2 linked regions of the Homo sapiens genome follow. The protein of the gene in region 1 purifies or fractionates together with the protein of each later gene. This does not show direct contact. Each region holds a gene or a part of one and is shown on either strand. Other genes may lie near its edges.

Region 1 (2,685 bases):
TCTCTCAACTCCCTTCTTTTTTTTTTTTTTTTTTTTTTTTTTGAGATGGAGTCTTACTCTGTCACCCAGGCTGGAGTGCAATGGCGCCATTTCAGCTCACTGCAACCTCCGCCTCCCAGGTTCAAGCAATTCTCTGCCTCAGCCTCCCGAGTAGCTGGGATTACAGGCGCCCGCCACCACGCCCAGCTAATTTTTGTATTTTTAATAGAGACGGGGTTTCACCATCTTGGCCAGGCTGATCTTGAACTCCTGACCTCGTGATCCACCTGCCTCAGCCTCCCAAAGTGCTGGGATTACAGGCGTGAGCCACTGCCCCCGGCCCCAACTCCCTTCTTTAGCTTCCCCGTAAACACTGCTGACCCCAAAGCTGCATCAGCTTTTGGCCTCTTCCCCTTTCACCCACACACTGTCCTGGATAACCTCCCCAGTCTCCACCTCTGGCTTAAACATAGATCCATGGGCTGATGGAGACATCTGCCTCCCGAGACCCTGATCTGTGTCCCTCCCCAGGACACTGGGCTCAGAAGCTTCCCCTAAACCTGTTCCTCCTCCCGGTGCCCCCATCTCACGATGGCCCCACCATCCCGCAGTCACGGGCAGACCCCTAGGAGCCATCCTCCTCCTGACCTCCTCCTCGCCCACCTCCCCCACCATCAGTGCCCACCCCTGCCGCCTGACGCTTGTGCCCTGCTCCCCTCTGCCTGCCCCAGCTCAGGCCTCCTCCTCTGCCCTGGACCCTCCCCCAGCCTCCTCTCAAGCTGCCCAGGCTCTAGTCTCCCCAGCCTGGTACCAGAAACGTCTTCCCACACACCCAGAGTGATGCTGCTCACAGCCCCCAGTGGCTCCCCGCTGCCTCCAGGACAAAGTCTGATCTTTTCAGGCTCAGCTTTGAGCCCTGACTGGCCTTCCCTTCTGCACCCCTCCAGCCTCATGCTCTTTTCTCCTCTAAGAAATTTTTGTCCTCATGGTGGTCCACATGCCCCCAGCTCTGTGTTCCTCACACCCACTATACCTGTGTATCACCCTCCCTTTCCAGAATGCCTTTCCCTTCCCCACACAGGAACTCCTGCTCAGCCCTCAAGAACTAGCTCCAATGTCCCCTCCTCCAGGAAGCCTTCCCTGATACCTTTAGGGAGGAACTGGCCACACCCAACATCCCCTCCCCACCCAGGTCAGAGCCCACTTGCCCATCTCCCCTTCTAGACCAGGATGGGGGCCATGTCCAGGTCATTTCTATGCCTTGACACTGACTGGTTTGGGAGTCTGAGAGATGCGAGATGCATGAGTGAGTGAAGGGGCACTGCCTTCCCTCTGAGGTCCTGGCCAGAAGGGGGAAGCCAGGTGGACCAAGAAGAAGGCTGAAATTAGATGGGGGCAGCAAGGCTTCTGGGAGGGGGTGAGATTCGAACAAAGTGCTGAAGAACACGCACTCATGTGCCACGCAAAGACAGGCAGGGAAACAATAGGTGCCAGATGTGTAGGTGGGAGAGCCCTGAGGGCAGGTGGTCTGGGCACTGTACACTGTTCACAGAACCAGAGCTGCCATAAAAGACATGGACTGAGGTAAGTGGGGATCTTGGTTCTGCTGAGATTCAGGGCAAAGAGAGTGACCATGAGGCCTTCCCCAGAGAGTCAGAAGGCGGGTACCTGGCACGCAGTGGCTCACGCCTGTAATCCCAGCACTTTGGGAGGCCGAGGCAGGCAGATCACTTGAGGTCAGGAGTTCGAGACCAGCCTGACCAACATGATGAAACCCTGTCTCTACTAAAAATGCAAAAATGAGCCAGGTGTGGTGGCAGGCGCCTGTAATCCCAGCTACTTGGGAGGGTGAGGTGGGAGAATCACTTGAACCTGGGAGGCAGAGGTTTCAGTGAGCTGAGATGGCGCCACTGCACTCCAGCCTGGGCAACAGAGCGACACTCCATCTCAAAAAAAAAAAAAAAAAAAAAAGACATTGAGGGGCTAGCAGGGGCCTTGAACATGAGGCTGAGGGGCAAGAATTCTGTGGCTCCAGGCACTGGGGAGCTACAGGAGGGCTGTGGGCAGGGGACGGACGGTAGATAAACTTCTCAGCCATCATGCCCTGTCAGCACTGACCAGTGGCACAGGGGACCAGCTTCTGTCCGTGGCCACAGTGATTCAGGCAACAAATAATCACTGAGCCCCCGGGAGGACACAGCACGCCTGGGACCCTCTCCCAGTCTCCTCTCCAGCTGCCCACATCCCTGCCTCCATGGAGCTCACAGTCTGGCTGGCTGGCTGAAAAATAGGCAAAATAACACGCAACCGGGATGAGCTGTGACCAGCCGGGCCAGCCGAATGAGGGGGGATGGGCGGCGTTAACAGTTCGGTAATATCGGAGGAGCAGTGGCATCTGAGTTGCCGTGGAGGGCAAGGCGGAGGGCATGGTGTGGGCAAAAGCCCAGGGGCTTGAGAGTGGTGAATGGCCAGCCGTGGGCAGAACCACGAGGAGAAGCCGAGTGTGGGCTCCAGGCCCGGCCTCCACCCTGGCTGCCCGGGCAGCTCAGCACCATGTCTGCTTCTTCCACAACAGGCCCTCAAAGACCTCAAGGCACTGGGCTGCAGAAAGGCGATGAAGAAGTTTGAAAGGCACACGCTCTTGGTAAGTGGGGATCTTGGTTCTGCTGAGATGCAGGGCAAAGAGAGTGACCATGAGGCCTTCCC
Region 2 (3,818 bases), on another chromosome or scaffold:
GGCAAGCCCACTGGATCTTAGAACACAGCGTGCCTAAGAATCACCTTGGGATGTTTGCTGAGCAGGTTCTAAGTCCTAATCCCAGAGATTCTGATTCCAAGATGCATTTTCACAAGCACGGCGGGTGATTCTAATGTGTTCTACTCTCTGCATGGAACATATGTATATTTCTAGAACATGGTACACCCCTGCGTGACGCCCTGGCATGACACTTAGCACACGCTGCTCCTCTACTCAGAGGGCCCATTCTCTGCTCTCTCCACCAGTGCAGTTAGGCACCCTCTCCACTGTATGCCCTTAGTGCTTCACCCACATCCTCATCATTACATGTCACATCGTGCTGTGGTTATTGGTTTAAGTCTCTCTCACTGAGCCACACTAGAGGTCCTTCAAGGCTGGGCTCCTGTCTTATTCCTTTGTGTCCAGGTACTACACAGTATCTAGCACACGATAAAAGCTCAATGAATATTCTTTGAATAAGTGACATTCAAAGACCTGAATACCTAAAGGAGGTTCAGGCTTGCATAAGGCCACACAACTCATAAAAGATGCCCATGGTCTTCCATCTGCATTACTACCATCCCCCTTTCATGGATCTGGACAGGCTGAGGTGGGGTGGAGAACATGTTCTAAATCCTAACACCCCACCCCAGGTGTTTTTGGTGCTTCTTCTGTAGAGAACCCACAGTGAGATCTTAAACTCCTCTCCCCACAACCTCACACACACTGATAAACCCAAGACTACCCATCTGGAAAACTCAGTCCAAGAGGGAGGATGGAGATGCGTGTCTGGGCTGAAAATCAGACACTTCTTCAAGTGGAAGGTCATTGCTCACCTACTTCCTCCTCTACCTGTTAGCACTGCCTGATTTGTTTAAAATCTTTAGAGCCAAAGACCCTTATGATTCTGCCTAGCCTCACCTGCCCCATTTCATTCTCCATTTGATGAGGTCTGGCTCAAGACACAGTAGCTATAGCTCAAAGTCCATTGAAAGGCTTTGCACAACCTGAGCTTCTAGTTCCCAGATATAAGAAGAAAAGATCTGCCCAAATGCCTGCCCAAGTCGTAGGGCCACCACCACGATCAGTGAATGTGATAATGGATGTGAGCGTGCTTTGATGCAAAGAACCATCTAGGAGTCTGATACTATTGCAGATCTATACATCATTATGTTGGCCTCATGAAAACAATCTGCTCCAGACTCATAGGATCTCAGGGCCTCTGACTCTGAACACCTCGAGGGTGTCCAGAGCTAGTGAGATCAGCCCCGGTCCCCAAGGGTCTTTTTAATATAATGTTTCTGCAACATGCTTGAGACACCCTATGAAGAGCCTGAGACATCCCTGAAGCCTGGACTCTGGGGCCAGGTTGGGGGTTACCTCTCGAAACCCAGCTGCTGGCAGGTCTTCTCTGAGTAGGAGTCATTCCAGTTGCTGCTACAGATGGGAAGCCACTGATGGGAGGACCCAGAGTAGATTTTAAGCAGAGACTTGTCCCAGTCAAACCTCACTGCAGGGCAAGAAAAAGGCAGAGCAGGTCCTCAGCACCTAGGAAGCATCAAGCTCTTGGGGGATGAGCTGAGTGAGGCTTTGAGAAAGCGCTTGTCCTGACAGCACTCCTTGCTGAGGCCTGGGAAAAGTCCAGGAACATGGCCTGGGTCATGGGGGTTAACCAGTACTCAGAAGCCCAGGATGCCTAGCATGGACAGAGCCAATGCAAAGTCACTAGAGTGCTACAGACTGATGCAAACTGTGTATCAGCTCAAATGGGAGGCAATGGACAGGGAATCATTGGGTCTGGATTACATACATGCACACATGCACACACACATACGTGCACACACACATACATGCATACACACAAACATGCACATACACACACATGCACGCACACATATACACACACAGGCATGCATACACACACACATATACAAACAGGCACACAAACACATGCACATGCACACGCACGCGCTCCCCCGCACCCAGCCTCCTTACCGCAGCCCAGCTCGTCACTCTTCAGCTTGCAGTCCACCACCCCGTCACAGCGAACAGCGTGCTTGGGACAGCTCTCCCTCTGCTCCTTGTACCTGATCCCTGTGTGGCCCTGCCAGAACTGGACTAGAGAAAAAGAAGCAGACAGCTGGGTCATGGCCAGCCCCACTGAGATGAGACACTGAGCAGCCCAAGGACCTGGGGGTTCTGAGACACCGACCTGCAATCCCTCTTGAACTCTGGGGCTCTCATCCCCCATCTGTATGGAGAGAAAGGCTGCTCAGGAATGCTCCAGAATGCTCCAGAAAGCTCCTGCAAGCAGGGCAGCACCAGGCAGATTCAAGCAGCCAGCCACCCAGAAAGAGAGAGAAAGAGAGAGAGAGACAGAGAGTGCTGTGGAGATGGGGACCACCTTGGGAACTCCCCTCCCTACATGCTGGCCAACATAGTGGCCAGAGAAACCACCTCCTCCAGTATCCCAGAGCTTCCCTCTCAGAACCCCTCTGCCATCCCATCTTCTCTGTGCTCCGCAGGGTCACAGCAGATAAATTTCTGTCCTCACAGTCACACAGGCAACCACCGTCTGTCTGTTCTCAAAGGCGACCATCCTTCCAGCCTCAAAAGCTCCTAGGTTTTTTGCTTCTCCCTCTCCCCTGCGCAAGGGACACCTCTATGCTCAGTTCTTTCCCCATGACTTGTCTTTATGCCTTTAAATGTCTTTTCAATCAACCAGCAATTCTAGGTGGCTGATTCCCACATATACAAGTTGGGGCTAAAAGAAAACAGCTTTACAAGCCATATGTGCAAATCTGCTTCACGACTTCCTCCCTCTCTAACAGCAATCTCTTTCCAAACCAGGGGCTGTGGGCCCTCCTGCCTGGAGGCACCTCCCCTTGGCTGCCTCACAGACCCGGGTTCTAACTTCTCACCCTGCCGCTCCTCCTCCACCAGCTCCTCAGCCCCACCCCTTGCTTCTCCTCCGGGGCCCACTGTGCTCTCCATCACCCAGGGTAAAGGCCGCCCGGGTGTGACTGCTCCTTCCAGGTCCAGACACAAATCCCTCCTAATCTCTTGGGCTGGCCCCTCCTCTCTGTGCCCTGGTCTTCCTCCCATATCCTGGGCACTCAACCCCCGGGGAACCCTGGGCAGTCTCCCCTGGAGTGCTCATGGAGCCCCACGTGGATGTGTAGTGGAGAGGGTACTGGGCCGGGTTGGGAGTCAGGAGGCCTGGGCTCTAGTCCTGACCCCACCAGGTAGCTGCTTGGTGACCTGCACAAGTCAAGCCACCTCCTTAGCCCTGGAGGTCTAGAGGCCTCCCTGGCAGAGCTTTTGGGAACTTCAGGAAATGCTGTGAAACCACGCTGAGAGCTTTAGTTCTATTCTGTGAGCCCACCCGTGGGTGCCATCTCGCCCCTCCATGGGTTAGTCCTGTGGCTTTCATGGAGCAGGGTGCCCTGTAGTGGGAAAGGGAGGGAGGGCAGGGCAGCAAGTCACAGCAGGCACCATGCCGAGGCCTTTATGTGCATTATGACAAAGACCACCCCACCCAGTCAGACTGGTGGGGAAACTGAGGCTCAGAATGTTAATGGACTTGTCGAATTCACACAGCCTGTCGGTGGCAGAGCCAGGGTCTGTGTGGCACTAAAGCCTGCTCTGCCAGCACACTGCCCCTCCCTCAGAATCCCCTTCAGCAGCCCTGCCAGCAGACGTTTCCACACGCTGGTCCACTCCACCCTTCACCACTGGTGCTGCCTCTTTAACAGAATCCTTACTCTTTGGCCTGGGGTTTAAAGCTCTCTACAGCATGGCCCAGCCTTGCTGAACCA

Evidence for each region.
Region 2: the proteins of IL4I1 (region 1) and TMPRSS13 purify together in Homo sapiens (affinity purification with western blotting; one study listed by BioGRID). This does not show direct contact.

The regions. Positions count from the first base shown.
Region 1 is NC_000019.10:49,891,343-49,894,027, reverse strand, and holds part of IL4I1 (L-amino-acid oxidase isoform 1 precursor), read left to right. Parts: intron 1-2,554; coding exon 2,555-2,623; intron 2,624-2,685.
Region 2 is NC_000011.10:117,912,397-117,916,214, forward strand, and holds part of TMPRSS13 (transmembrane protease serine 13), read right to left. Parts: intron 2,119-3,818; coding exon 1,996-2,118; intron 1,511-1,995; coding exon 1,381-1,510; intron 1-1,380. UniProt on the Homo sapiens protein: Serine protease. Cleaves the proform of PRSS8/prostasin to form the active protein. Cleaves the proform of HGF to form the active protein which promotes MAPK signaling.